Linked DNA regions of Homo sapiens: all the other regions are linked to region 3. The links come from fine-mapping of genetic effects on gene expression. A gene starts in region 3. Each other region holds a variant in brackets. All regions are shown on one strand. Distances are between the middles of the regions. Region 1 has its middle 14 kb from the start of PROK1. Region 2 has its middle 52 kb from the start of KCNC4. Region 3 holds the start of KCNC4 (potassium voltage-gated channel subfamily C member 4).

The links.
Region 1: its variant is fine-mapped to the expression of KCNC4 in gastroesophageal junction (GTEx, PIP above 0.99).
Region 2: its variant is fine-mapped to the expression of KCNC4 in lung (TOPMed, PIP above 0.99). The same link has a PIP of 0.9 or more in skeletal muscle.

The regions. Positions count from the first base shown.
Region 1 is chr1:110,459,798-110,470,242 of GRCh38, reverse strand. No RefSeq gene overlaps it. Among named protein-coding and RNA genes, the nearest start is that of PROK1, 14 kb to the right of the region's middle. The variant CTCTG/G (reference allele first, on the strand shown) is at 6,359.
Region 2 is chr1:110,257,337-110,267,815 of GRCh38, reverse strand. It overlaps a transcript of KCNC4 not described here. Among named protein-coding and RNA genes, the nearest start is that of KCNC4, 52 kb to the right of the region's middle. RefSeq lists an enhancer at 4,869-4,948. The variant C/T (reference allele first, on the strand shown) is at 4,287.
Region 3 is chr1:110,205,860-110,216,338 of GRCh38, reverse strand. KCNC4 (potassium voltage-gated channel subfamily C member 4) reads right to left here and starts at 6,025. Exons shown (of 4, transcript NM_001039574.3): 1 at 4,162-6,025. The coding sequence starts at 4,839. It overlaps KCNC4-DT (KCNC4 divergent transcript), which reads left to right and starts at 6,352. Exons shown (of 2, transcript NR_046546.1): 1 at 6,352-6,728; 2 at 7,135-7,889. RefSeq lists enhancers at 1,109-1,188, 3,540-4,428 and silencers at 5,666-6,345, 8,308-8,357, 8,368-8,427.

The DNA.
Region 1 (10,445 bases), 250 kb before region 3:
TTATTAGGGAAATACAAATCAAGACTACAATGAGATATCACATCACACACATTAGGATGGCTGCTATCAAAAGAAGGGAATAGGGGAAGAAGGAAGGGAAGGGAGGAGGGAAGGAAGGAAAAGGAGGGAGGGAAGGAAGAAGGGAAGGAAGGAAGGGAGAGAAAACGAGTGTTAGCAAATACTTAGAGAAGCTGGAAACCTTGTATATTGCTGGTATGCATGTGAAATCGTGCAGCCACTATGGAAAACAGTATGGCAATTCCTCAAAAAATTAAAAGTAGAACACTGTATGATTCAATAATTCCACTTGTGGGATTCTTCAGTTCACTCAGATGAATTGAAAGCTGGGTTCCAAAAAGATATTTGTATACCCATGTTTGTAGCAGCATTATGCACAATAGCCAAAAGGTAGGATCAAGTGTCCATCCACAGAGGAATGGATAAACAAAATGTGGCATATGTGTGTATGTCTGTGTGTGTGTGTGTGTGTGTGTGTGTATATATATATATGAATATTATTCAGTCTTAAAAAGAAAGGACATTCTAACACGTGCTACAAAATTGATGAATCTTGAAGATGCTATGTTAAGTGAGATAAGCCAGTCACAAAAAGACAAATACTGTATGATTCCGCTTATGTGAAGCACACAGAGGAGTCAAATTCAGAGACAGAAAGTAGAATGGTGGTTTCCAGGAGCTGGGACCAGGGAGAGAATGGGGATTTATTGTTTAATGGGTACAGAGTTTCAGTTTGGGAAGATGAAAAATTTCTGGAAATGGATGGTGGTGATGTTTGCCCAAGAACATGAATTTACTCAATGCTGCTGAACCATACCCTTAAAAATGATTAAAATGGTAACTTCTATGTCACATATACAACACAGTAAAAAAATAGGTTTACTTGTAAATAAAAATCAGTATACTCTTATGAACCAAATATCATAAACTATAATCTAATGAATGGAATATGCACCTTTTGAAAACTCAGAATATAAAGAGGGACACCTTCAGGTTTTATGTTCTGTCTTTGAACATCTGCAAAACTCACTCCTCCCTGGCCTGGTCACTGTGAAAAGTAGAGGGACAGGGTCTCAATCATGGGGTTTTCAGGAGTAGAGGCGACCTTGGCAATGTCTCTTACACAGCCCTGGGTCCCTGAGTGCCCACTGTGTGCTCAGCGCCCCTGCTCTGCCCTTGTGACAGTCATCCCTCCCAGCCTCGGCGTCCTCATCTGGAAACATCTTCTACCTTGTAGGTTTTTTGTGATGATCAGTGAGGCCATGCAAGGTGCCTGGCAACAGCAGGCACTCGATGAATGCAAGCTCTTATTATTCTCCTCTCATCTAGTCATCACCAAGAGCATGCAGGGTGGTTGCTATTATCTATATTTTACAAATGAGAAAAATGAAGCTTAAAGAACTTAAGTCGTTACTCAGCTCCAAGATGAGAAGACAGTGTTGCCAGGATTTCAATCCAGGACCAGTTCAACTCCAGAATCCATGATCTTTCTACCCCAGCCTCTCAGGCCTCATTTAACAGATAAGAAACATGAGGCTCAGTGACATTGGCAAGGGTGAAAGCCCAGATGACCACAGGGGCCAGGCAGGTAATGGAGAAGAATATGTTAGCTGATGTAAAAAAAAAAAAAAAATCGCCTACCAGAGATTCTACCAAATTATATCTATTTTTACTAAACTAAGGAGTAGGCATGTAACATTTTATGGGCCTACAAAATACTAGAGATTGTGCTTCAAATTCTAAATTTAAAAATAAATGTTGAAAAATAATTTTAGGAGAAACCAGATCAAAAAAGAAAAAAATGCAATTAATTTAATTATCTTCCAAATTGCTTCATTTCAGATGTCTCACTATGTTGCCCAGGCTGGTCTCGAACTCCTGGCCTCAAGCAATCCTCCCACCTCAGCCTCCCAAAGTTCTGGGATAACAAGCATGAGCCACCAGGCCCAGTGTCCTTCCAATTTTTTTTTTTTTTTTTTTTTTGAGACAGAGTCTCACTCTGTCACCAGGCTGGAGTGCAGCGGCGCAATCTCGGCTCACTGCAACCTCGGCCTGCCAGGTTCAAGCGATTCTCCTGCCTCAGCCTCCTGAGTAGCTGGGATTACGGCGCACACCATCAGGCCTGGCTAATTTTTGTATTTTTAATAGAGACGGGGTTTCACCATGTTGGCCAGGATGGTCTCGATCTCCTGACCTCGTGATCCGCCTGCCTCGGCCTCCCAAACTGCTGGGATTGCAGGTGCGAGCCAACGCACCTGGCCCCAATTTATTTTTTAAGCATAATGCAGGCCAACACCTGCAGACCAAATTGTCTGCAGGTCAGATGCTAACCCCAGCCACCAGATGGCCACCCTGAGGAAGGTATAGTGGAGGCCAAGATCAATGGCGGGTTCAGGAACATTTGAAAAGAAAGATAATATCACAAGTTAGTGCCACTGTGGGAACCCACACTAGGGATGCCAGGATTTGCCATTTTCCAAGAGATACAGGAAATGTGGATGTGGGGAGAAATATACCAGCTTTGAAATAAGAGCAACCATTTGTTTTTGCACTGTGCAGACAAAATAGCAGAGGTCTATAGGGCAAGCCTCTCCTCCCACCCAGTGACAGTCTACAGGATGAGCCACTTCACATATTGGCAAAGCCCAGACTAAAGAAAAATCTCCAGACTCCCAGGCCGTGATGGAACCAACCAGTGTCTTCTCCAGCCTGGACCAGTCCAGAATGGGAGCAGGAGGTCCCGAGGGGAAAGGATGGAAGGGGGAAGGAGACTGGCGGATGCCCAACCCCGACAGTCCCAGCTGAAGGAGACAGGTGTACAGACACTGGGGCATCAAACTCTGACTCTGACTTCAGGGTTCAATTATTTTCTTCTGTCAGATTTTTGCCCAAAGCTATACCCAAAGATTTTCAGTAATCCCACGTCAGTGGAAGGACTGCACAACATCTAGCCACATTAATTAAAGAGGATTTTTTTCCTCTGAGACGAACGTGTGTTAAAAATATCAAATATTAATCACTGGCAACATTAATTTATAATAACGCTTGTCTCCCTCTCAGCTTCTAAGTTGACATCTGGCATGACTGCTTTGAAACTAACACCCGCTCCATTGCAGGAATTATAAATAGCCTGAGTTAAAATCTTCACCTTGAACTGAACAGACTGACTCCACGGGGTGGTTTACGAATGAAGAGGGCTGCAGCATGCAGTAAAATCCGGGGTGGGTCTACTTGGGGTAACAGTCAAAGAATTTTTTTAAGGCAGCAATCCTGAAGCAGGGAAGGGTCAGGGAGAGGGGTATGAGCACAGAGGGCCCTGCCCTGCTTCCTCCTCATGGGGCAGGGTGCCCAGGTGCAGGGCTGCAGGAGGCCAGCCTCACTCCCACTTGGCCCATTTCATGAGCCATCAGCGGAGGGGGTGGGCACAGGCTGTTCTATTCCACCCTGATTAAGTGCACAATCCAGTTTCTATACTTGAGTTTTGAGGATTGGTTGGTGCAGACACTGTCTTTTATTGAAGAGAGGGCAGAGCCCACTTTATATAAAGAGAAGAAAAAATTCATCTATCAGCCTACAAAGCACGTTCACTCCATAAGCCTATCTAGTAGTGATATTCACAGTTACTGTGGCTCCTCTCTGTGCCAGCCTGGGGCTTGCTCCTCGTATTTAGTCCTCACAACAACATCACAAGATAAGCTCTAATGGGAACCTATTTTACCAATGAGGAAATTGAGTTAGAGGAGCAAATTCCCCCAGGTCCTGTAGCTAGGCAGTTGGCGGGTGGAGCAGGATTCAAACCAAGAAGAGTGAGTGAATGGGGCCTTTTTGCTTCACTCCTTTCCAACATTTCTCAAGCTGCTAAAACTCTAGCTTGCCAGACTTCCTCTCCAGAAATCCAGATCCAGTGGCTCTGGGATGCGGCACAGGACCCTGGGTACTTCACAAGCACCCCAGGTGAGTTTAACCCTAGGGGAGTTTGGGGGAGCACTGCCGAGGGTGCCCTCGTGACAGCCTGTGGGCAGCCAGGGGTTACTGTTCCTGTTTACCAGACGTGGAAACAGACCCTGACTCCTCAGGGTGCTGAGATGAGACTTTTGGTCCCAGGACCGCCAAGAGGACCTCTGACCACCAGCCTGAAGGTCAGAGAGAGGACAGAGCAGGAAGACAGGGCGCCTTGTAGAGTGGGAAATAGTGGGGACAGAGTCTGAGAAATAGGGTGGGAGACGTTGGGGGCAGTATATGGTCCCACTTCTGATTGCATCCAGCTCCTCAAGGGCTCAGGGGACCTCTGGGGCAACCCAGAAAAGCCCCTTGTGGCCTACATGCTTTGCAGTTAGGCCACCTCCAGGGGACACTGGGGCCCCAACTTGTCCAACTAAGACTGCAACAGGGAGATAAGGCAAGAACCCTCTCTCTCATCTTTCCCTGGCTGGGGCCAAATTCCCGTGGGTGCTTAGCTCCCCTGAGACCCCTCACAGGCTCTTTCCTCTGACCCTACCTCCCTGGGCCTGCACCAGAGCCTCTTCTCAGGCCCCTTCTTGAAGGCTAATGAGACCAGGCATGGCCAGCCTGACACTGCAGGCTCTCAAATGTCTCATTGTCCTCCCCTCACGCTGACAGTAAGCTGCAGGCTGCCTCTGCCCATGGGGCTACTGCTACTAAGATACCACCCCCAGCAGCTCCTGCAGTGGGGCAGCTCCCAGGAGAGGGTCCTGGGCCCCGCCTTCTGTTGCCCTGACTCTCTGACACCCCCTGGAGACCCTGAGCATTGCATCTGGCAGCCCAGGTCCTTGTCTCATCCCTTCCCAGCTGAGCCCCAGATGGGTCCAGGGAGTGTGTATGTAGAACACATGTTGCCTCCTGGTCTGGGCCTCAGAGCAGCCAGCTCAGCCTCCTCACCTGCAAGGCTTTCCAGAGTCCAGGTGGGGGCCCAGCTGTTTGCCTTAAAGTGCACGGAAATGACTGCCTTTCAAGGGACCTCCTCTCTCTCCTGCGCAACTGCTCCTCTCTGTATTCTTTTTCCCCCTTTGCACTTTGATGACTCAGGTTTTCACAGGCACAATAGTTCCCCCTTTGAAACCTAATTCTGGATGGGCACAGACCCAGGTGCGCACACACACCCTTCTTCCTCCCTCTCCCGGGCTTGCTAGTCCTTGCTTTAGCATGAAGACTACCCTCTATCTTAGCTGGAACTTCTCCTAATGGAAACTAGCCTCTCTGCCACTTGGAAAGAAAAGTAGAATTTTCATTATTTGTTTAACTGATTTCCTTCAAAGGTTGGGGTGATGGGTTAGGGTAGTGTTTCTCTGGGAGTGGGAGGTACAAGGAGCACCTGCATCAGAGTCCAAGCTGTAGAGGGGCTTGTTGAAGGCCCCACAGAAGCAGAGTCTTCCTTTGGTGCTTGGCAGTAACGTCTTCCTTTGGTGCTTGGGAACTGGTGGTCTAGGGGGTGAGCAACATTCCCTAGCACTGCCTCCTTCTAGAAGGGAGTCGCAGCAACAGTGAGGCCTGTCTCAGGGAACACACATGGTTTGGGAGGTTTGATTTGGACACAATCTGAGAGGAGCCAGGACAGACTTCAAAGCCCACTCTCCTTATGCTTTTTCTACCAAAAAAAAAAAAAGAATAGCACAGTATTAAGATCATAGCCCATATTGAGCAAACATTCCATTTTACTGTGAAACAGTGACTCATATGTTTAAGCAAGGTATTAAGAAGTACTTAGATAAGATTTGTGTATCTGTGTTCCCAAATGGAGCTGTTATTGAGCTCTGCCTACATAAACCTGTGCTTCTAAACTTCAAGATAATAACAGAACATGATCTGAACAAACTGATTTCTTCCTACCATGTTCAGCTTCTGGGGAATTGAAGCACATCCGAGAAAAGATTGTTCGTTCCTTCCTGGACATCTTATTGGTTTACCTCACTGAAGAGATCCCTCCAGGTAATGCTAGTGTGGTGTGCTGGTTACAACACGTAGGTGCTATTTTTATTATTGCCATTGTACAGATGGGGAAACTGAGGTACTGAGAGGTTTAGTAACTTTGGGTCCAAAGTCTCTAGTAAGCATCCAAACTAGGGTTCGAACTCAGGCAGTCTGTGCAGTGAACCACTGTGCTAACCCCCCGTCAGGAAACATAAGGGAGCTTTGCCGCTAATTTGATGAGAAATGCCAATCGAGCAAAATGTAAAATAACAAGAACATGTCAAGCTGCCATTTGACATATTTGTTTACTTAATCTTTGGGGTTTAGCTTTGAGACAGAATTTCACAGGCTCCTCCATGACTCGTCTCCGTCAGAAATGTGCCCACGTCTTCTTACTCACACCAGTGTTTCT[CTCTG/G]TTTAGATCCAGTTAATCCTCCTCATTAATCTTCAGCTCCCAAATAAAGGCCCCTCTGTCCTCACTAGACCCAGAATATTTTCCTGCCCTGTACCAGGCCAGCCCCCGCAGGAGCTCCGAATCCTTTTGAGAACCACACTCGTGTTTTTCTCCCAAGGTACACAGAAACAAATATGTCTGTGACTGACGCGCAGCAGAGTCTATCGAGTAGGCAGGGGGCTGAGACAGGAAAGGATCTTTTGGACAAAAGGACCATAAATCATATCCTTCCTGTGACCTGGACCAAGTGGTCTTCCCAAGACCCAAGCACTGCCCCTCAGGTGAGCAGAGAACTGGGACAGGACACAGCAGAGTGGCAGGGACCTAGGGTGTGGCTGCAGACCATGGCTGTGTGCAGGCCCCAGCAGAGCCCTTTGTCATAAATATGGGATGGAAAACCTCAGCAGGGAAGCTGACTCTTTCGTTCACCTAAAGTTGTTCACCTCAGTGATTCTGTGGCTTTGGGCTTCTGAGTCTAGCCATGGCCCCAACCAGGGTTGGAGCAAGAGGTGGCAACCCATCTTTCAACCTTATTCCTTGTCAGGGTCAGCTGTCCAGGGTGTAGTTCTAAAGGGGGCACAAAACATCCCTGCAGTCAATAGAAGACTCAGAGCCAGTTAAGGCCTGTGCCAGATAACTCAGCCACTACATAGGGATCTCTCTGTTCCCACCAGGGTGGGCAGTGCCCTCCAGTGGAAAACAAAAATTCCTTGCACTCATCTTAAGATGCAGTCCCAGGAAACTGAAACCCCAGACTGCAGAGTGCACAGTATAGTGCTTTTGTTCTGCTCATAGGCAGTTTCTTTAATCATCTAAATTGAAAACAGTTTAGTATGCCATTGGTGTAAAAGATGTTTGGGGTAGAAAACCACATATAACAAATGCCTTATTTGGTACATTAGCAAAGAAATACACAGTTTGGGTTAATGTCAAATCGTTCTCTTCAGCCTACAAAACAAATATTAAATGAACATTTTTTAAAATATCCATTTGAAGGAATATCAAGTCACAGTCCAGCCCAGAACACCCACCCTCCTCACTCCTGATGTGCCCCAGGGCTTGAGGATCTCCTGGGTCCCTGGAAGCACCAAAACTCAGAAACTGTGAGCCCCGGCCCCTTCCTGACCTCATCTTTTCGATTCTACAAACCGAAGTTGTAGAGCTATTTTTTTTTCTTTTTTACTTTTTGGATTTTAGTATTTTTAAAACAGCTTTATGGTGATATAATTTACATACCAGACCATTCACCCATTTAAAATATACATTTCAAATAATTTTTAGGATACTCACAGAGTTGTGCCACCATGCCTACTAACTAATTTTGAACATTCTTATGGCTCCAAAAAGAACATTAACAGTCACCGCCTATTTTCCTACCTGCAGCCCACCCCAGCCCTGGGCAACAGCTAATCTACTTTCTGTCTCTACAGAGTTACCTATTCAGGACATTTCCCATAAATAGAATTATACAAGATGTGGCCTTCTGTGACTGGCTCTTTCACCCAGCATGATGTTTTCAAGGTTCCTCCATGTTATGGTGTATATCAATACTTCATTCTTTTTCATGGCTGCATAATACTCCATTGTGTGGATATAGTGTGTTTTATTCATTCACTTGTCATTCGATGGAGAAAACCTGTTTGTTTAACAATGGCTCTTATTGTTTTCCTTTCCAGCTCCCAATCAGAACAGGTGTCCCCAAAGATACCCAGACAGAGAATGTGCCCCCAGGCCACCTTGTGCTTCCTTCCCCCACTGGTAGAATCTGATTTTTTGACAACCCAGGCGAATCCTCAAGGTTGACTCTTGGGCTAGACTCACAGGTCAAGGCCGACTACTGGGCCAGGCGCAGTGGCTCACACCTGTAATCCCAGTGCTTTGGGAGGCCAAGGCAGGAGGAATGCTTGAGACCTGGAGTTTGAGACCAGCCTGGGCAGTATATGGGTCACATTTTCAAGTAGCAATTTCTGGAACTCAGTGATTGTCACTGTCAAGGGTATGAAGAAGTAGGAATGCTGCTGTGGTCTGAATGTCCCCCTGAATTTATGTGTTGAAATTTAACCACCCATGCAATAATATTAAGAGGTGGAGCCTTGCGGGTGATTAGGTCAGAATAGGATCTGCCCTTGTGAATGGGATTAGTGCCCTAATAAAAGGGCTCCAGGGAACTAGCCAGCCCCTTTTGCCCTTCTACCTTCTGCCATATGAGGATAAAAAGAAAGCCTTGAGCAGACACTGAATCTGCTGGTGCCTTGATCTTGGACTTCTCAGCCTCCAGAATTATGAGAAATACATTTCTGTTCTTCATAAATTACTCGGTCACAGGTATTTTGTTATAGCAGCAGAAACGGAGTAAGACAAACATCAAGTGTTGCCCTCCATAGCTCGAGGGTCTTGGCCCCACCTCAGCCCCTGCCCAAGCACAGCCACCCTAGACAAAACACACACTCTAAGTAAAATCCAGCTGTCATTCGTCCTGCAAATTCAACTCTGAAGCAGGTCCCCAACCTCGGAGCCTCTGCTGAGCTGACCTTTCCCTTTGGCTTTGGGAGGCTTCCTGCTCCTCCTTGGGTCTCACCTCTGGCCACTGCCTCCTGGGGCCTCAGAAGGGGATCACTGGACAGGAGGAACAGCAGTCAGCATGCACTCACCTGTGCCTGCTCAGTCATCAGCCAGTTGGCATTCTATGGACTACACTGTCCCATGTTCACTGTTAAATATTCAGGTGGAGCTGGATTTAGCAGCAGATTTCCACTTAATCTCCTTTGAGTGTTTCAGGCCCTCAGGAGAGCTCCCAGGATAACTGCTCTGGCGGCTGCCCTCCTCTCAGTCTGTGTCTAGCCCTTCCTCCTTGGTGGCGAGGGCTCCAGGCTCTAGCCCACCCCGGCCTCCCTCTGGATACCAGGGAGAGGGTGGAAGCCTTGACCAAGGTGAATGACAGAAATGCAGATTTGGGGAGGGGATCGAATGATGAAAAATCCTCAGAGAGGCAGCTCTTGCCGTTCATGCTGTGTCCCAAGGATACACAAATGAAGGAAGGGGACACTCAATAGTGTTATTCCGACCCCTGCCCACCTCCACTTTCTCGATCCTTGAGAAGCTGTGAGAGGGGATGCCCTCAGCCTTTCCTAAAATCCCAGCAGGAAGAGGACAGCAGCTCCGAAAAAAGAAGTTTCCAGGATGGCACAGGGCCCAAGTAGCAATTAAGCATTTTTCGTGTGGTCCATAGGGTGGCAGACTTCTTTCCACAAACAGAAGTGCCGTCCCTCTAAACCTGTTACTGAGACTAATGTTTGAGGATAGCTGCAGAATGGTCCCTATCTGCTTTGAGGAGTGGCCTCTGAGTCGCCCATCTTTTCCACTTCAGCTCCCCTGTGCTGTCCCCACTTCAACCACTAGATGGTAGCAGACACCACCAGTTGGTGAGGAAAGTGTTGGTGCAAAATAGGAGGTAAAGGCTGCAATTGAAGGCTCCTCCCTATCTTGAAGCTATGTCAGTTTCATCTGTTTCTAATTTAATTTAATTGCATCTAATTCATTTTTCTTATAGGTACATTCTTATAAGTAAATTATTTTTATATTTATGAAGAACATATTCCTGAATATAAAGAATACTCACAAATGTATTCTTCTTAACCCCCCGAGCCTCTCCTTTCTCCGCCCTTTTGTCTTCAGTAATAGGAATGGGGACCAATTCTACATTCCTCAAAATTCGGATAATAAGAAATGAGAATGGTCTCTACAAAAATAAAAATAAAAATTAGGCAGGCTTGGCCAGGTACAGTGGCTCATGCCTATAATCCCAGCGCTTTGGGAGTCCGAGGCAGGCAGATCACTTGAGGCCAGGAGTTCAAGACCAGCCTGGACAACATGGCTAAACCCCATCTCTACTAAAAATACAAAAATTAGCTAGGCATGGTGGTGTGTGCCTGTAATCTCAGCTACTTGGGAGGCTGAGGCACGAGAATCACTGGAGCTCAGGAGACAGAGGCTGCAATGAGCTGAGATCGTGCCACTGCACTCCAGCCTGGGCAAGAGCGAGAC
Region 2 (10,479 bases), 51 kb before region 3:
CTCCAGACTAGAATAAGCAAAAAACCAATTTAGCCTGTGAGGTTAGAAGCAAGATGGAGTCTGTCATGTTAGATTTCTCTCATTACTTATAATTCTGCAAAGGCGATTTCAGTCCCTTCCTGGTGGTGAGATACATAGGAAGTGGGGCAAGGAGGATTAAGAATGACAGAATGTAGAGGTTCGCATCTTGCTAAAAGGAACAGAATAAGATGATGGCTAAGGGCATAACCTAATCCTAAGAGAGGCTGAAATGAAGTTTTGCTGGCCAGGGAAGGAAGCAGGAGCCGGATTGTAAATGTACTTAGGAGTGTGTTCATGTGGGCGGTGGAGGCATTGGGGAGTGGTGCTATCTGGAATGTACGGATTCCAGAAGGACATGGAGGCAGCGGGGAATAAGGACGGGCCTCGTATCAGCTGAACTGAGGTGTGTGCAGCACAGCACTGAGCCAGAAATGTACTTAGAGCCTCAGAGTCTATTCATTCCCTTCAAAGAAAACCCCTAGACAGCAACTGCAGTATAAATAGCAAACAAGCAAGCACATGGTTCTTCTGCATCAGAATGGAGAAAAGACGTTGATCCTGAGCAACCTGGAGTCCAGCAGCAGCCCTCCTGGGCCCCAAACCTTCCCAGTGGCCTCCTCAGCTCTCAGAAAACCAGCACCTTTCTCCCCAGCAAAGCCCACCCTACACAGACTGCTGAGCCTCCCACAGCCAAACAAGTGATGAATAGCAGCCCTCTCCCCAAGGGTTCTGCCCACAGAGGCGTGCGGGCTGCTTGCTAAATGGAAGCTACAAGACCTCTGGGGCTGCTGCAGTTTGTTTTGCTGCAGGCCTCTTGGCAGATGGTGTTTGCTCAGCCTGCCCTGCAAGCCAAAGTGAGAAAGTGGGATGCTTCAAGAGAACTAACCAGGAGCTAAGAAGGAGACATCAGAAGGGGCAAACATCCCCATGACAATGGCACATCAAGGCACGGGGTCCTCGGGTCCGGGGAACACAGACTTTAGGTCTCTCCTGGTATTCGGGTCCCTTGGGGTACAGATGCCAAGACTTAAGGGGAAGAAATGGGGCCCATACAAAGAGCAAGGGGGCCAATCTGGATCAAGAATGGCAACAACAGCTGTGGCAGACTTATAGCTAGGAGCAGAGGCTGGAGCTAGGCTGGGTTCAAATCCCAGCCCTGCCACTTAAAGGTTCTGTGCCCTTGGGCAAGTCGTTTTACCTTTCCTCATTAGCAAAATGAGAATAGTAATAGTACCTACTTCCTAGGGTTGCTAGGGAGACTAAAGGAGTTATCCCATGTAAAGTGCTTAGAGCAAGCCTGGCTGTTCCTAAGGACTCAGTGAGGGTTACCAACAATGAATGACTGTTTCCAAAGGGTCTTCCAAAAACCTTGCAGAAATTCTTGCTGCTTCTCATTAGGAAAGTGATGTCCTGGGGCTGGATTTATTTGTGGGACCAGGTTTGTTCTGCACTCCAGCCCCTCCCCTCCTCACTCAGCCCTCCAGGGTGCAGTTTCGGTGTTGCGGCTATGAATGTTTCAATATCTGATCCTTTCAGTCAACTGAGACTCTCTCCCCATGCAACAGTGTTGGGATCTGGTTACCACAAAGCCAGTACTTGTGTCCCTGATCAGCCACTTAACTTGCTTCCCTGCCCATTATTTCTCCCCCTATTTCCAGAGCTGTCGGGGGAATTGGGTGAATTGTACTTAAGCAGAAGAATGCCTGCATCTATTAAATGCTCCACAGTGCCTCTTCTGCCTTCATGGAACTTCAAGAGGCAGTCCCCACCCTGTCCCTAGCTCTCTATGTGAAAAGGGAACAAGGCTACATGTATTTCTTTTGTATTCCTGCGGTGCTCTGAGGTTTAGTGTTATCACATGGTAGGCTGGGTCTATCTGTGCTGAAAGAATGAATGAATGAACAAATGACAAACAAGGTAGGAAGGTAGGTGCAACAAGTCACTTGGGAGGGTCAACAAAGGAACCAAGGGCCTCTCTGGGGCTGGAGCACCACCAGCCCAGTTTCTCCGTGTTTTCAGGAGGAGAGGGTCTAGTGCTGGGCAGGACCTACCCTGTCCTACCCACCTCCAAGGGCCTCTTCCCTGGCTCTGAGTTCCTCTTCGGGGCCCCAGAACAGGCTCCCTGGTGCTAAAATGGAAGATGATGACTATTGGGCCTTTCTCTCCAAACCAGAGATGGTTAACTTTTTGACATAAGTACTGTTGTAATGCAAGAAACTCAAGCAGCCCAGAGGAGTGCAGAGTTCCTCAGTGTTGCCTGGGAACAGGGGCCTGGATGACTTCTTGGGCAGCCCTCTCTAAAAGCTCCTTTGGGAGCCCTCTTCTAGCAGCCTAAAACCTGACTGCTAGGGGCCATCCTCTGGGTGGGGAATATTTTATTTTATTTTATTTTATTTTATTTTATTTTATTTTATTTTATTTTATTTTATTTTATTTTATTTATGTTTTATTTCTGCTGCTGGAAACTCAGGGAGCCTGAGAGTTCTACTGTTCACTCATCAGCCACTTGTAAACTTATTTTTCCGAGGCTTCTAGCCTAGGAAGAACCTGAACACTATAAACGAGATCTTTCTCTGAAGATGCTCAGAGTGTGGGGGAAGGGACAGGGTAAAAGAAGTTACTAGTATAGCATCAATAAATTCTGTTTTGATTGCAAGTGGTTTTGTACTTTATTTTCTTTCACTCTCCCCCACCTTTTTTTTTTTTTTTTTCTGAGACAGAGTCTTGGTTCTGTTGCCCAGGCTGGAGTGCAGTGGCACAATCTCGGCTCACTGCAACCTCCGCCTCCCGGGTTCAAGTGATTCTCCCGCCCCAGCCTCCGAGTAGTTGAGATTACAGGTGTGTGCCACCATGCCTGGACAATTTTTGTATTTTTAGTAGAGATGGGGTTTCACCGTGTTGACCAGGCTGGTTTCGAACTCCCGACCTTAAGCCATCCGCCTGTCTTGGCCTCCCAAAGTGCTGGAATTACAGGCATGAGCCACTGCGCCCAGCCAGCTCTCTCCCTTCTTTCTCCCCCTCCTTCTCCAGAGACGAGTAGGGATCCCTCTTAGGGGTCTAAATAAAGAAAAATCTTGAGTTCCTTCCAGGAAAATTGCAGGCTCCTAGCTAGCCTTGAGAAGTAAATAAGCAACTTGGTAAGCAGGAAGGTAACAGTGGCTTAAAACAATAGCCAAGGAAGTTAAAGTCATGTTTGGTTCCCTTTAGAAACTAAAGATAACATCTCAACATATGTTCCTGAGTTGTTTTTCAGAAACCCGGACCCCTACTAAATGGATCTGCTGGCATATCGACCTCAGATAAGGGGGGACTAAGGACTGAACTCTGACCTCTGTTCTTTCTTCTAAAATTCTTCCTGAAGGGCTTGGAGGAGGTCATGCCCATGAGCCAGAGCTAATAATTCTTTTCTGCTTGCTTCCAAATTTTTAGACAAAGCCTCCTTAACCAATCACAAATCAAAAAAATCTTTGAATCCACCTATGACCTGTTCCTCTCTCCTCCACTTTGAGATGTCTTGCCTTTTTAGGTCAAACCAATGCACAGACTCTATGTATTGATTTATGACTTTGCCTGTAACCTCCGTCTCCTTGCCTTCAAAAACTCTTACCTGTAAGCCACTGAGGACTTCAGGGTTTAAGCATTAGTGGCCCAATTCTCCTTGCTTGGTGCCCTACAATAAATGCCTCGGTTTCTTTCATTGCAGTCCCAATGTCAGTGTTTGGCTTTACTGCCCGGGGCCAGAAGACACCTGTTCAGTTAAAAAAACACCTTTTCTCTTTTTTTGTATGCAAAGTCCCTTTTGGAATTCTTCAGTTGTACCAAGAATAACATGGGAAAGAGATTCCCCCACCCCATCCATTTGACCAGGGAGAATGGGGGAGCTTTGTACCCAGAGGAGAGAAAAAGCCCAGAGGTAGAGATGCTTGAGAAGGACTCTCCCCAAATGGAGACCCCCATTCAGCTCCCCCCCCTCACTGAAAGCTTGCTAGAGATTGTTTTTTTTTTAGAGAGGAAGGCTGGTTGCCTTCCAGGCCTCAATTTGTTCCCCAAAGTAGTCTTTCCCACGGGAAGAACTGTTTCTTATTCTATGTATAAAACTGGATTTTTGAACCTCTCAATCAGTCTCCCATATGAAATGTACCCTCTAAACTGGAGTCCTTTATGTAAGGGCCACTTTGAGCCCCAGCAACACTGTGGGTCAGATGATGACCCTGTTTGGAGTGGCGTACATATTTCTGGGTGTCTGTCTGTCTGTGTTGCCCAAA[C/T]GTGCTCCTATTTAACCTTGATCATCCTTTCTGGCTGAAGGATGCCAAAGTGAATATCGGTCATTCTATCTCCAGCAGCAATCTTAGACAGCCAAGGAAATGTCAACCCTAGGAAATAAACAGCCCTAATATTAGCCTAGATGTGTGGACATGTTTCCTCAGCAGATGTGGGAAAAAAAAAAACCCTTAAATTCTCATGTATTTTTAAAGCATGCCTCATGCACCAAAATCTCCCAAGATGTCACTAAATGTATTTTGGCCCAGAACAGCTGTTATTACCGTATCTCTTACCCAAGGGATGAGCCAGCATCCAGCCCTCAGTTTCCTGGGCTCAGGATAGCTGGCTGTCCCCAAAACAGGTTGAAAAGCCCCACCACTGCTGACCCACATGTTCCCTTTGCCACCAGGCAGGCAGCCATTCTAGAACCACAGCACATGGCAACTCCCTCCACCACAGAAAAATGTGCAAGTGACAGATGCAAACAGGTCATGAAACAGACACCAGAGGTCATGCTGTCACCAATGAGCATTTCCTGACAGGGCCTGTGCACAGCATCCTCTGTTGTTCACAGGGCTATCCTAGGTGATGGGGTTACGCGGAGTCTCACCACAGATGCTCAAGGCTTGACAGGCGGGAAAGACAGGACGTCCTCATCACGACAAATGCTTATTATCAGTCCTGACTGTGCAGGTAAGCACTATAGGAAAGCCCTCAGAGGAGGAAAAGACCAAAAGGAGGGGGTGAGGGCCGAAGAAATGGGACCTAAGAAGTACCTTGTCACAAATCTAGACCTCCACTTAGTAGGGGAGAGGAAGGGCTTCTGGAGAAGTATTGGAGAAAGGTGGGTTTGACAAGGTTGATAGAGACAGTGAGGCAGAAGGACAGCTGTATTGCTAAGAAATTAGAGCTTATCCTATGGGCTTCTGGGAGCCAGAGTAGGTCAAGTAAATGGACCTTAAAATGTATGATACAAGAACTGGAAACTCCCTATTGGCCTGAACTTCAAATTCACTTTCACAAATGCAGCGGCTGCAGATCAAAGAGGTAGGCACTGGGGCAGGGTAGGGTTGGGGAAGTTAGGGAAGAGGAAAGGCACAGAAAGAAGAAGATGCAGTCACTGAGCTCCCAGTTGCATCAAAAGACAAAGTACTCCATAAGAAGCCAGAGGTTGGCTGGGTGCAGCGGCTCATGCCTGTAATCCCAGCGCTCAAGGATGGCTTGAGGTCAGGTGTTCAAGATAAGAAGCCAGAAGTCTAAGGCAGTATACAATAAGCATCACATAATTGCTATAGCACCCAGAGTCTGTTCTTTTAAGCAAACAAATATTTTTATAACTTTGTATTTTATAAGCATTTATTATATAATTATATCTTTATAGTTCTAATAAAATGGAATCAAAACATATGGCCTCATTCACAAGATTTTAAAATAAGGTAGAAAATTTTGTTTCCAATCCTTTTTTAAGTGTACAGGTATGAGAGATTTAAAGGTATTACAAAACAGTGCTTTGGGCAAAATTGTGTAATGATGGAAACATCTAAACATCTGTTTTCAAATGTTTTTTCCTTAGCATGTCATCAATTTTTAAAAGATAATAAAGCATCACCTTTAAAATGGAATGCTTGTTGTTTTGTATAAGAAAAACAAGTAACTTTTTAATTTTGATAAACCTTAAGTACTTGCCATGAGAAAATTGGTAAACCTTTATGGGAATCAAAAGACCTCCCTGGTCACTCCATATCCCATTTCAAAGTGTTATAAGAATTCTGTTATATTTTACAGACCTTCTTTTTATAAAATTAACATCATCAATGACAACACAGCATTTTGTGCACATATGGCTTTAACTTCTTTGCTGCCCAGTAAAGGAATATTAAGTGTGGTTCTATCTTTGTAACCACACCAGATCCCTCTTTTTATTCCAGTCAATACTTTTTCTATAAAGCGTTTTTATTAGGGAAGTCATTTACTCTTTTCCCACTCATCCTCCCTTTAGTGGCTCAAAAATAGTGCTTTATCATATAATTCTCGTATTTCAACAAAATGTAGCAAATCCCATTAACTGAGATGTTAGAAATCTCTATACTTTAAATCAAATATATAGCAGATTTCCTATCAGGCATACTTTGTCCTAATATTCATTTAAAATTTTTTCAGCAATGTTTTTTATGCATCTGTCAATAATGCCTGCTGACAAAAGATTGCATTTTTTATTGCCATATTGTTTTTCATGTCTTATTTCAGCCATTTTTCATGGTAGAAAAAGCAAGTGTTTCCCTAAGGGCATATGGCTTTTTGTGTTTTGCAATTACTAAGAACACTAAAGGATTCACGCATATGTTTATCATTAGATTTAATGAAATGTTAAATACCGGATTAAGCATTGTAATGACTTCAAGCATCAATGAAAAAATTGAGAAAGTTTTTCTTCATGGTCTAGATGCTTAATTTTTAAATATCTTACTAATTGGGAAATTTTCTGCTATCATTAGCTAATATCTCAAGACAAAAACTCTTAGGACAATATCCTTCATTAACAATAATAAATGGCAACCATGTTTCAGAGAATTGTTTTTGCTTTTTATTTATTTATTTTTTTGAGACGGAGTCTCGCTGCGTCACCCAGGCTGGAGTGCAGTGGCGCGATCTCGGCTCACTGCAAGCTCCGCCTCCCCGGTTCACACCATTCTCCTCCCTCAGCCTCCCGAGTAGCTGGGACTACAAGCGCACGTCTCCGTGCCCGGCTAATTTTTTGTATTTTTAGTAGAGATGGGGTTTCACCGTGTTAGCCAGGATTGTCTCGATCTCCTGACCTCGTGATCCACCCACCTCGACCTCCCAAAGAGACAATTGTTTTTTAAATGTTGCATTTTTCTGTCAACTTCTTTTCAGATCTGATTGGATTCTCATTGCTTTTGCCTTATAAAGTGGCTAACAAAGAACTTATAAAGAAAGAAAAGGGTCACCCCAGAAATATTCTTTTTGTTTTTTATGCTTTTACTATTGATATTATCTCCAACCCGAATTTCTTTGCAGGAATCTTTTAAAGACATTTGTTCATTTTGTGAAAGTTATATAGACACATGGTAGGCATTTGAAAAGATGTTGGTTGATTGAGAAAAACCTGAAACCTGATAGATGATATATTCATCATTTCCTCTTTTTTTCTCACACTATCTAGTCTAAGATCATCAATTCCTCTTTACAAAGTCCTAACATCTTACAGATCCCAAAGGATTTTCAAGATCTGCAATCCATGGGGCTTTCAGTGGGAAGCACCCTTATGCCCTAAATGGTTTGATAAAGAGAGGGAAAAGCCCCCCTGTTCCTAGTTCAGGAGGATCAAATTTTTAATTCTCAGGGACTTCTCAGCCAAGATGTATTTTCTTGTATTCCACATTGTCTCTTGAGAGGAGTAAAAACAATCCATGGTATTTTATTCTTCACTTTCCCCCATAGTGATAAATACAGATGAACAGTCAAAGAGCTCAGCCTCATCTGAGATGCATGCCCAGGCCTGCTGGGCGTTCTGCTGGGACAATGCAGCCTGGCCAGGTCTTACCTAAGAGGAAGTGAGCCTGAGGACAGAACCTGGACAGGAAATGCACATTGGTTGGCGAGTCTGCAATCACACAAAAAGGCACCCTCTTTGACAATCTTTAGGCATCACTTAAAATTGTATTTGGCTCCCTGTACTAGAAACCCAACCATGCTGGCTTACCCAAATGAGGCTTTTATTTGTGTCATGTAACAAGAAATCAGGAAGTAGATAGTCCAGAGATGTTGTCAAGAAAGTCAAGAAGAACCTCAGATCCTTCTAGCTCCTGCCCCACCATCCTAGCATAGAGCTTTCCTTTTCAGGAGTGTGAGACAGCTGCTTCATTCCCAGGCATCTCCTCCTCCAGGCAGGAAGAAGGGGAAGGGTGAGGCCAAATGCAGCCTCTTGGGCCTTTCTTTGCAGGCACACATACCCTTCCCAGAGCCCTGAACCTACATTTCAAGGTCCAGCACTGTGAACATCTGCAAGAGAGTCTGAGAGATCAGGTATCAACTGAACACATTACAGCCCCAAGTAAAATTGATGTCCATTTAGTAAGATGAAGGGGAGGAAAGATTCTGGAATAAGTAGCAATGTCTGGGCTCTTCTCATGAATTAAGCACCCATGCTTCAATTCCATATGGAATAGACTGATCCTTGCTTGTCCACCGTCCCCTCTCAAACACCTGTTCATCATGCCTTAGACAAGCAGCACACTGAGAGAAAGTGTTCCGGTGGGTTCCCCGTGTGCCCTAGTCACATGCTGAGCTGGCCTACGATTCATTCCTGAACAATTTCCTTGGGGACAGTAGGGGTCAGGATGCCTGGGCCCAGCCTTTGGCTTACTGTGGGGAAAAGGAGACTCCTCCAGGTCCTTGACCTACCTTCTGGGTGCTTGAGGAGGATACCTCCGATTCACAAATAAACAGAGCCATCTGTGACAGGCTGTGCAAAGGCTGAGCCTTACCCACAGAGCCACAGCATCCACCCCTGCTATTCAGCTCTGAGTCCAGATGGGCATGCAGCCCAGAAGCCCCTGAGGGCATTGGATTTCAGCGTGGAGAAGACCTTGTGTGGGAGGTACTCCCAGACAAGAGGAGATGGGAGCAGGAGGAGGGGAGGCTGAGGGCTGGGGAGCTGGCTGTGCATGAAGCTGTGATTCTCATCAGTGCCTTGGAGGATTCACCACTTCTGCTCCATGCCTCCTCATAGGGTGATATGGTAGATTTCATTCAAGCTGAACAGAATTGATATTTTGCTCAAATCCTGTTTTAAGAATTTTTGTGCCTTCCTCGTAAAAGCAGCATAGCCTAGGTGACTCTGGGCAGGGTTAATAGTCATCTGTGTGAATGATTTGAAGGAGGATGGATGGGTGTTTTTCTCTCATTGTGAAATCAACACATACACGCTGAAGAAAATTTAGAAAGTATAGAACAATTTTAAGAAGCAGGAAATGGCCAGGCACTGTGGCTTACCCCTGTAATCCCAGCACTTTGGGAGGCTGAGGCGGGCGGATCATGAGGTCAAGAGATCGAGACCATCCTGGCCAATGTGGTGAAACCTCGTCTCTACTAAAAGTACAAAGATTAGCTGGGCATGGTGGCGTGTGCCTGTAGTCCCAGCTACTCAGGAGGCGGAGGCAGGAGAATCGCTTGAACCCAGGAGGCGGAGGTTGCAGTGAGCCGAGATCACGCCACTGTACTCCAGCCTGGCAAAAGAGCAAGACTCCGTCTCAAAAAAAAGAAGCAGGAAACAAAAACCCTTCATAAATCTTAGGAGAAATACAAATCTAGATACAGATTCTAGATATATGAATAGTATCTCCATTTAGTGCCTAGGAAAGTGTCTATGGCAGAAATTTCTGGTTGCTCCCAATATCATTCTTCATTCCTACCACAAGCTCAAATCCATTTAGCATAGCAATGTGCCCAGGTAAAAGACAACATTTCTTAACCTCCCTTACTGGCAAGTGCGAAAGGATTATAAGTAGAACTTGGATGGGATTGCAGAAAGACTCCTAACGGGGCAGACAGGTCAGGCATGCATGTCATGTCCTTTTGTTCCTTTCTGTTCTCACTTTTCCTGCCTGAAATATGGATGTGATGGCTAACACACCAGCTGTAGTCTTGGACATTTTAGGATTAAAGCTGTGTGCAAAAGTCAGTGATGCAGAAAGCTAGAAGAAAGCTGCATCCCTGATGACTTGGTTAGAGCTGCCATACCAGCCCTGGAACACCTGCCTCTGGACTTTTTTTTTTTTTTTTTTTTTTGAGACGGAGTCTCGCTCTGTTGCCAAGGCTGGAGTGCAGTAGCGCGATCTCGGCTTACTGCAAGCTCCACCTTCTGGGTTCACGCCATTCTCCTGCCTCAGCCTCCCGAGTAGCTGGGACTACAGGCGCCCGCCACCTTGCCTGGCTAATTTTTTTTTTTTGTATTTTTAGTAGAGACAGGGTTTCACCATGTTAGCCAGGATGGTCTCGATCTCCTGACCTCGTGATCCACCCGCCTTGGCCTCCCAAAGTGCTGGGATTACAGGCGTGAGCCACCGCACCCGGTCCCTGGACTTTTTTTTTTTTTGCGGCAGGGGAGGGAATCAAACACAATTTATTTTAGAACTAGACAGGAAAGACTGAACTAAAGAAAAAGTTTTACCC
Region 3 (10,479 bases):
TGCCCTCCTGGGGAGCTCAGAAAGCCAGGGTACTGCCCTCCTGGGCTCAGGTTCCTGGTTCACCCTAGCTCAGAGGGCACAGCATCAGTGAGTCCTGGCCCTCACTTTAAAGCCTGTCGTGATCACTGACCTGTCCCCCAGGCAATGCCCGGACCAGAGAAGCCAGGGAACTTCAGAAGCGGGCAGGCAGGAATGCAGCTCTGCTCCTTTCCTAGAAGGCCTTGGTTTCATGCTCTGCCTGGGCCAGGGAGCTTCCCTTAGTCTTTTCTCCCAGCCACGCCTCCCTTCATTTTTCCTATGGAAATCCCACAGTGAGAAGAGAGGTTATCCTTGACCAATTCTGGGGAGTGAGAAGTAAAGGAACAGATAAGAGCAGAGTGGAGGAAGAAGCTCTCCAGTGAGGGGCCACCCTCTGGAAACCAGAGATCCTCTCTGGGCAGGAGCCAGAGGCCATAGGAGGAGCACAGACTTAGATTGATGAGACCTAGGTTTGGATCCTAGTTCTACCACAAGTGGTGCGACCTTGAGAAAGCCCCACCAGGCCTGTTTCCTTATCTGTATACTGATACACAGATGTTAACAATATCTGCCTCACCTAGGCCAGATGAGTAGTAGCAGAAAGCACAGGCCAAGCCTCCCACATAGTAACTGACACTTAACAAAGGGGAAGACCCTGCTGGAGCTGCCTTCCTGGAGCAGGGAGTTCCTGTGGGTCCCCTCCTCTACTCAAAAGGGAAACATCACAGGAAAAATGTGCTGATTTAGCCAAAGGAGAGGAACTGTAATCCTTAATAAGGCTGATAGCTGAGCTAAAGCCAGCCCTGCCCTGGAGACCTTGGAGACTAGGGTAGGGGAAGGGCATCCTGGCCCCATTCTCCAGGCCTCTTGTCTGCTCTCAGAAAAGAAGGTGCAGGTTTCTAAAGTTTCGGATGCTGCCAAACCTCCACTGGGCCCCCTGAGGCTGTGAAGTCTCCACGGTGAGCCTTCACTCTGCCCTGCCCCTCGTACCTGTTCCCAGCTCAGGCCACAGAAACGGAACCACAGCAGCAGCTGCCCATGGGCCCAGCACAGTGGAGCAGGGGTGAGCATCCCAGTCCAGGAGCCTGCCTGAGCGGAACAGCTCCTTGGGCCAGGCCTGTAGCTAGGCAACAGGCTCTCATAATCAGCTCAGTTCACTTTCCATTTGTATCGTTTTGCTCCTGTCATAACGCACTACTCAAATGACCAGGTTGCTGTGTGCGAAAGGACGCCTCAGGGCAGAGCACTGCTCCTCTCTCCCTCTTCGCCCACCACCCCACAGTGCTGCGGGCCCTTCCAGGGAGGAGGTAGCTGTGAGCGAGGGAAGGTAGCACATATACCGGGGGGAACAGGGCTGGGAAGGATGGGACAGTGTGACAAGCCAGGGGCAAATGGAGGGGGGAAAGTGCAGCCCCAGAACTCCCCGCATGGCATAGTACCCTCAGGCCTGGAGGGGTAATACAGTAAGTCTTCCTTCTGACGTCTCCATCTGCCCCTGGGTTTTCTGATGTCATCCACAGGAGGTACAGAACCTCAGAAGGACATTTCTCAGGCTACAGTAAGAAACAAGCTCTCTGCCTCAAAAACAGCCTAGTTCAGTGGAAAGAAGGTGTTGTAATCACAAGAGCAAGGGCTTGGGAGTCAGGGACTCTGGCTTTGATTCAAAGCCTGGCCACTATCTGGCTGTGTGATCTCAGGCAAGTTGTTTACCTTCTCACAGCCTCAATCTATTAAACGGGGATAATCACCGGGTTTTAAGTTTATTGGGAGGATTAGAGATTAATGTAAAGTATATACAGCAATGTATCTGTCTGGGGTGCTCAATAATGAGCAGTTATTCATTAATTTGTAAAAATTATGTATTCCCACTTGTGTGTCCCGGGAGCAGGTGAGGGTTGCCTTTGCCTGGGCTCCTGAGCAGGAGGCAAGTCCTCTTTTAGTGCATGTGTTGGCCAGAGCTCCATCCAGATATTCACATCAGGATGAACAACCAGAAGGCTGGAAACTAGGGGTGGTTTCCTGCCTCTGCTATTAGTTAAATGTCTTTGGCAAGAAACTTAATGTCTCTGAATCCTGGTTTTCTCAATGTTTAAATGGAAGAATTAACCTTGCTCCATCATAAACTTCAAGACCTCAACTGGAATGCCTGGGCTGATGTGATTCCATGTCAAAGGGGCAAAGCACCCTGGGTTCCTGGGAAGACTTCCAGGGGCAGGCCAGGCTCTGAGCTTACTCAAAGAGGCCCCCTGGCTTGGCCATTCAGCAGTGAGTTAGGAAGAAAATAAACTCAATGATATGTGGGGTGCCACCTGGAATTCCAGAGGGGAAGAAGAGCAGGTGAAAAGCCCCTAGAAGTCCCAGAATGCTCAGAAATAGGGCCTAGCTCCCCTAACCACCTCATCTCATCCCTGCTTCCCTGGTTTGTCCCCTTTCCCCATCTCTATCTCTATCTCTCCTCCCCGACCCCCAACTTTGAAAGAGTCTGAATGATGTGTGCCTGCCCTCTCTCCCCTAATGCAGACAGCCAAGTGCTAACACTAGCAAGGTTAGTGACCTACATGAGAAGTCTGTAGAACTCACAGCAGACCCAGGCCAGGGGCATCACTATGCCCTCACCTTCTTAGCCAGTCTCAGGGCTGCAAGGAAAGAAACCCAGACAGTTGCCTCTAGCTTTGTTGTCAGTCCTGAGAAAGATCCCTGCCTTCTCGTGGCTGCCTGCAGCCCCAGCCCGGTATGCCATGGCCCCTGAGACCTCTGCTCCTCCCTTCTCTTCCAGGCAGAAGATGCATCTGCCCTGGCCTGGCATTTATGCCAGCCTGGCTTTTCCCTGCAGGCCTGTTCCCCAATTCCCTACCCTGCCTTCTTCTATGACTAGGAAGGAGTCCAGCACAGGGGTGCTGGGAAAGGGAGGGTGCTCTGAGACTCATTAACATGACAATTTGGGATGCTGGAGGAACCAACCAGGTTCCACAGCAAGCAGCAGTCCCCAGACCCAACAAGTTACATTGCTCTTTCCTGTCTCCCAGACAGACTCCAGCCAGGCTTTAGGCTGCTGACCATGAGATCCGACACCAGCCCCCAGAGTTTTCTTTCTTTAAAGAATCTAAAGCCATCCTTCAGGGATTTTTTTTTTTTTTTTTTTTTTTTTTTAGCTGTCGAAGCATAATGGGGGAAGCACCTCCCCCGTTCTCCCCTTTCACCTAAAGGAGTTAGGGAAACTGGATTTACTTGGGGAGGAGGCGGTAGGTCTTGCCTAAATCAACCTGTGCTTCCCCCTTCCCTCATACACCCATTTCAAGCAGTAACCTGAACCAGGGCTTTCTGGAAAGACAGTTTGTGCTGCAGCAGAAAGAAAAGAAGCGGCAACAAAAATCTGGTATCATCACCAGGAAGCCTGTGGCTGGCCACTGGCCGTGGGAGCCTGCAGAGCCTAGAACGCTAGGCCCTTCGTGTTTAATTCTCCTCTCACCCCAGCTGAGGCCAGGACATCCCAGGTGTGCAGGAAGCCTCAGGGGCATGGTATCCTCCCTGGCAGAAAGAATGCCTTTCTTAAACCTGGAAAGGAGGCCGGATTGTGGTCTCAGCTTTGCCTCTTCTGAGCTTAAGATGCTGAAGCCTATATCCTCCTCTCTGAAGTGCATAGTTGTGAGCACACTGAGCTGCTGGGAGGATGTAAATGAGGTGGCACGGCATGGAAGCATCTAACAAAACCCACCCTAGTTTCCTTCCTCTCAACCCTGCCTGCCCCCATCAGAAGACCAAATTCCAGCTCTTCCAGGACCGTAGTCCTGTGTGGAGTGGAGGGCAGCTGAAGATAGGGCAGCCTGTGCAGACCAAAGAAGGGGGTGGAGGAGCTGAGCTGGGCACCCCACTCACTGGAGGGGATGCGGCAAAGCAGGCAGCTGGGACTGGGTCCAAGTAGTAAGTCAAGTGTGTGCAATCTCCTGATGGAGCGTGCAGGGGAGAGGGTGGGAGTGTGTAATTCCCCTGCGAGCCACGGAGGGGGGTTGAGAGGAAGGCGGGAACAATCTGCGGTGGTAAGGTAAGTCAGGCTCGGTCCCTGCTCCTCCCGGCCCCTACCCACCACCCACCACGGACCCCTTGCAGACCCAAGATGGGGAGACACGGGCTCCTGCCACTCACCCTAGCGGCCCGGGAGGAGTAGGGATCCTCGAAGAGCGCCCACATGCGGGGCTGCCAGCCGCGGCAGCCCCCAGACCCGGCGCCATGGCCCGCGCCTCCCTCGTGGGGGCCCAGTCGCTGCAGGGCCAGCTCCCGCTCATCGTCGCCGGCCTCGTCGCTGGGCCCCGCGCCGCTGCCGCCTCCGTCCGGGCTCTCGAAGATGTCGAGCGCCTCCTCGGCGTCGCGGTGCTGCCGGTAGGTCATCCAGCAGCAGGGTTCCACGTCGGTCTCGTCGATGCCCCAGAAGGTGAGCTCCTCTTCGAAGAGCGGCCCGCACACGTCCGCGGGGCAGTGCAGCTTGCCGGTGCGGTAGTAGTTGAGCACGTAGGCGAAGACGCCCGGGTGCCTGTCGAAGAAGAACTCGCAGCCCCCGCCGCCGCTGCTGCCGCTGCTACCCACACCGCCGCCATCGGTCTCGGGCCGGCCCCCGCCGTCGGGGTCGGCCAGCCAGGCGAGGCGGGTTCCCGGTAGGGTGCGCAGGGTGCTGCGGTAGGTCTCATGTCGCGTGCCGCCCACGTTGATGATGATCTTCTCCGACGCCTCGCCCTTGGCCATCTCCTCCTTCAGACATGTTTTGGACGGAGGCTTGTTCCCCGACTTGCGCCCGCGGTAGGAGGAGACACACACCGAGCTGATCATAAGAAGCGCTGCGGGGCTCCGGCTTGGGGCGGCCGCTGCCCTCCAAACACCCTTCCCGAGGAGGCAGCGTCAGACGGGGGAGGGGGAGGAGACGAAGAGGAGGCAGGAGGCGGTGGCGGCCCCCTCTGCGGCTTGGGCTTGCCCCTGCCTATCCCCCTAGGACGCGGAGCGGGAGGAGTTGGATTTCTCCGGTACACAGGTGGTTGGGGTTAGGGCAGGAAGCTCCGGAGAGAGGGAGGCGCAGAGAGGGAGGACCCGGGGAAGTAGAAGCAAGCACACACGCGGTCCCCCGCTACGACGGGACACACAAACGCTCTGGGCCGGGGACACGCCCCCGCCTTCACCCCGACCAAAGACGAGGAAGCGCACAGTCCACGCGCACCGCGAAGGTCCGGGGCGCTCGCGCTCACACGGGCCACCCTCCGGCTCCAAGACCGCACCAAGCCCCGGAATAGCCGGCTTCCCCGCAGCGGCGGCAGCGCAGCAGCAACAAGTCCTCCGAGCGGCTGCCGGGGCCAGGCCGACACTCTCACGGCAGCCGGAGCTCCGTGGGCCCGGGCTGCTTGCGGTCAACACGAGGCGGCGGCGGCGGCATGTGGCCTCTTCCCCCCATTCATAAATCCAGCGCCGGGCGAGGAAGGCAGGCGGGGCAGAGCAGAGAGCGGCGGCCGGGCGGGCGGGGGCTGCGCAGGGCGAGGCGGCAGCTGGAAAACAAGCGCGCCCGCAGGAGCGAGCCTCGGGTCCTGCGTCCGCGGCTGGGAGCTGCGCCGGACCGGGCGCAGCGCTGCGGGGGCCGCGCTGGGGCGGGGGTGCCTCAGACGGGGCGTCCTGCGCGGCGCCGAGCCTGGGGGGCGGGGCCGCTCTGGGGAGCCGGGCTCTGGGCACTGGCGAAGGTGTACCGGGGGCGGCGGCCGAGCGGCCAAGGACACCTGCAGGCTTCCCGGGCCGCGCGGAGAGGGAGCCTCAGCGCAACGCCCCGGCGCCTGGTTCCTGCGATCTGGCGGCGCTGGGAGCCACGCCATCTACGCGTCTGCCCATCTCCGGGCGGGGCGCCGGCCTTGGCTCGCGCGCGGCAGGGGGCGGGCGCGAGGTGGCATAGGGGAGGGGGCGCCTCGGCGCCGGTGGGCTGGGGCCCTAGGGGCTCATGGTCTCCCTCCGGCGCTGGCAGCGGCCGCCACGCCCCAGTGGCGCCTTTTCCTCCGGGGCCCCGCCTCGCCCAGACGCGCCCTTCGCGGGGCGGGGTGGGCGGGGCGCGGCGCAGCGCGGGGCCGATCCGACTCACTGCAGGCCCTGGCGACCGAGCGCAGTCTTCCTCCCCGGAGCCGAGCCCCAACCAAGCGCGTCACCTCCTCGCCGCCAGTGCCCAGCCCAGCGCGCCGCCCCTGCGCGCTTCCGCCGGCAACCCCTCCCGCCCCCCTCAGCCCTGCTCCGCGCCTCCCCCGGGCCCGCAGCTCCTCCCACCGCAGCCCGCTGACACCGAAGCGCTCTCGACCCCTGACCTCTAACCTCCGCCCGGCTCTTCTTGCTTCGTCCCTCGCCCCCTCCCCGCCAAGCTGGTCGCACTGTTGCCGTTTCACTGCGGCTGACGGAAGGCCAAGGAAGAAAGAGGGTAGAGACGCTGTCGCGAGGATCAGGCTGCCCTCTCCTTTCCCAGGGACCGTGTTGGGGCCTTCTGACCACCCCGCCCCGCATCCTGCGCCTCGGAGGCCCAACGTAGCCCAAGACACCCATGGTCTTGATGCTCTCCGCCTCTGTCCCAGCCACCAAAGTCCCCGCGATGGAATGGAGGACGGGGTGGCCTTGGGCAGAGAAGCGCTTCTTGTGCCGGATGGAAGGAAACCGTAGCTCTGGCTGTGTTCATCGCGAAATGTTTTATGGATGTGGAGTGGGTGGGTGGCCCTGAAAAGTCATTAGTTAAAGCCTTTGCTCGTCATTGCTCTGGGGTCCACATAGGAAATGCCCGTGTCCTGCCTCATGACCCCTTCCTGTTTCTACTCTTATTCTACCCATTACAATTTGACTTTGCCTGTGTATATGTCTCCTCTCCCCTCCCTAACCCTGAGCTCCTGCAGGCGGCATTGTGCTTTTTCATCTTGATAGCTCCCACAGTGCCTGCCTCTGAGAACCTGTTTGCTAAGTGATTGAGAAGCTGCCATACCCAAAACGTAGGCACCAACAGGACTTTACTGGCCCTATCCCAAGAGCAATTTCCAGATTCATTTGTTTTTGTTAAGTCCAGAACCTATTTTACATCTTCATATTAATCCCCATTGGGTTTTTTTTTCTTTTTTACAGCTTCAGGCAGCCTCCATGCCTGTCTGGATGATGTAAAGAGATCTTGAGGCAGAAATGAAAGGTGAATGACACACCTGCCCTGGACACCTGTGCACCTTCCCAGTTCCAGATCAGGCAGTACCTAGCTCAACTGAGAAAAACAAGACAAGGGCCTATGTGTGTCTCAGGAAAGGTTAAAAGCTCAGTGCCAATGCAAGGGATTTTTACAAGCAAAAGTCTCATTATTAATGAGGCCAGAAAACCAAAATGACAATGATCTTTGATGATCTGTACTGACACGCAGGGGAGGTGAGTTAATCAGAAACACACATTTACTGGCACCCCCTTTGTGCCCAGTCCCTGCTCCTCGAAACTGATGTTTGTATTTCAGAGTTTAGCTGTCTTTGAGTTTGCTGCAGTGAAAAGAAATATCCCAAGTGTGACTGGGAAGAGAAGACCCGGGACAGGCCAGAAACTGGAGTGAGGAAGAAAGAACCACAGAATATTAATGTAATGAATAACTTTCAAGTCCTATCTGGTCCGTGTCCTGGCAAAGTCCCTTGGGGTCTCTCCCCTGCTTTCCGTTCATCAGGATGACTGAGCTCAGTAATTGTAACAAAGGGAGTGTAGTAGGCAAGGGGACAAAACCCATAGTATCCCACCCCTGATTGACTTATTAACTCAATGAACACTTATTGAATACCTACGATATGCCAGAAGCAGTTCCGGGTACTGGAAATACATCAGTGAATAAAACAGCCACTCATCCTAGTAAATCTGCCCAACTGGTGCTTCCACTCTGCGGTGCTTGTGGATAGTGATGAGCACCTGGGGAGATGGGTAAAGGGAGAAAGCTGCCAGGGAAAAAGGAGGCCAAGAGGGAAGGGAGGAAGATCAGAAAGTTGGGACACAGGCATAGGAACCTAGGAAGAGCTGACAAAAACAGAGGGCCCAGCCTGAGAGAGGCAGCTGGGTAAAGGTGCATGGGGCCAGGACTCCCAGCTCTGTGCACTGACCAGCTCGGGAGAGGGGAGCTCAGCCTCAGTCCTGAGGCCTCCAGAGAATGCCTCACCCTTGCTGAAGGTTTATTCTAGAACTCTGGGCTCACCTGTTACGTGTACCTCTCTGAGGGAGTCGATATGCTGCAGTTAGCACTATGGGACTTGTCCCCATCATTTCTTTGTGTGAGGTCTTGGTGTTCCCTCAAAACACAGAGCCGGGGAAGGATAGGAGAGCCCCCTGCCCAGGCTACTGTGACACAGCCTACCATGGATGTGAGGGTGCTGCCCTCTGGTGGTGCTAGAACATCCTGGCTCCAGACCTCGCCCTGAGCTCTGGGGGCTGTGATGTGGGCAGATGGGGTGGCAGCTGATTCTGGGCTTCCTGTTGATTCCAGGACCTCAGGTACATCTTCTAGCCTAACTCTGCCATTGGGACTCTGCCTACTCCCTCCCTTCTTCATTCCTCCAAGACCTTGATACCTGACAGGCTTAAGCAAGACCACAAAGCAGCCACTATTGGAAATTCCTAGTTCCCCAAGCTTCTTTCCCTCATTTTCACCTTTTCTCTTTTGTCCTCTCCTTAGTGCCCTGGCTTCTTCAGGCTGTCAGGGAAGAGCACCTGTCTGAAAGCCAGTTCACAGAAGGTGTCAGCCACAGCGGGTTTCCCTCATCAGGGGTGAGGGTGTGGTGAAAGAATAGGAAGAGAGGGCCATGGGAGATTCTAAAGGGGCACCGATGGAGGCTGTCAAGCACCTGCACCCTTTCCAGGCCCCCCCTCCACCCGCATAATAAGGTCCTCACCCTCTGAGTGCCGACGCTGACCCTGTCCGTAGGAAGCTGAAAGCCTGAAATCAAAGCCGTTTACCCTTCCCCTTTCCCCACTGGGAGCTTTGTATGGGCTCAGCCTCTTTAGGATGACTGGAGCCATCCAATCTCCTCTCCATCTTCCTTCTTTGAAACCTGTTTGTGGTGAGGGGCTCCAGGCCAAGGCAAGGTTCTATCCATTGGTGCTCACACTTTCCCTTTTTGGTATTCTAGCTCCTGCCAGGGACTGACCCTCCTTCAGGTCCAGGCCAAGGAGCCAGCATCCTTTCCCAGCATGCCTCACTCTCTCCCAGCCTGGAAAATTGAATTGCTTTATCAGACTCATTAGAGGGTGATAGGGCCTCCCCGCTCATGGGGGAACAAGAGAAGGGAAGGCAAGAGCAGGCTGGCAGCCTCCTGTCTGCGTCTCAGCTCACTTCATCCTGCCTCCCCCAACCCCAAGCAGCCTGCAGAGACTTGCAGGCTCCAAATCAAATGTGAGAGCCTTCTTTGGGGGGAGGGGGGTTGGTGGGGGAGGGGCTCTGGGGAGAACCTAGCCCTAGTAATTCAGGTCTTGTGAAGATCAGTAGAATGGCTCTGCCTCAGGACTGAAAGCAGGGTTGGGTTGCTGTGGTAATCCCAGTGAAGTTGTATCTGGGGCTCAAAGGTGGCCTTTGAAGGCCCAGCTCTTAAAGAGAAGAGATCAGAAGCTCGGGCCTGGGCAGGGCTCAGGGCCTCATACACTATGGACCTGGAGTCATAGGGTTGGAGGGGACCTGAGTGTTAGCTCATGGACACCTTCCCCCCGCTTAGGGATGTCAGGCCTAAGCAGCAGCAGCGAACTCTGAGAGACGGAGCTAGGGCTGGTGTTGGGCCAAGGACAGAGAACGATACGGGGGCCACCAGCTGAGTGGACCCTAGAGGCCTCCTTGTTTAAGGCTCCTGGGCTGGGAACTCAGCCTGCATCCAGACAGCACACTCCCGCCACCGCGCCTGCCACATGCACGCTAGCCCAGGGTCCGGCTGGCAAGACCTCTTGACACTTAGCATTTCTCCATCTAGAAAAGTAGAGATTGCTCCCACCTGGGCTAAGTTCCAGGAAAAACTGGTTCATTCCATTAGAGGAGTTAATTAGTCCTGATGGGCCCAGTCCCCTCCAGCAATATCCTGGGGAAAGGGGAAGCAGGTGTCTGGAGAGACAGGCCAAACTCAGGTTCCTCTTGGGTGCTCCTGAAGTCCAGGGATTCTTCCCTGCTTGGGTCAGCCCTGGGCAGAATGGAGGGACCCAGAACCCAGGCAGCTCAGACCCAGGGACAGAGAGCAGATCCCCACTGAGTCTTTATGCTCTGCAGCCAGGACTGTGCCTGGCATGGATCAATCTTTGTAAGGGTTTGTGGTTGAATGACAGGCATAGTCTTCTCCCATCTCAAGGTTTCTTCCCACCTAAGATGATGTAATTAAAGAATGCAGCAGCGTGCCTGGCACCAGTGAGTGTGCCAGGAAGGGAGATGCCCAAGTCAGATTGTGACTGCCTCTGCGAGCCAGGGACTCTTGCCTGGTC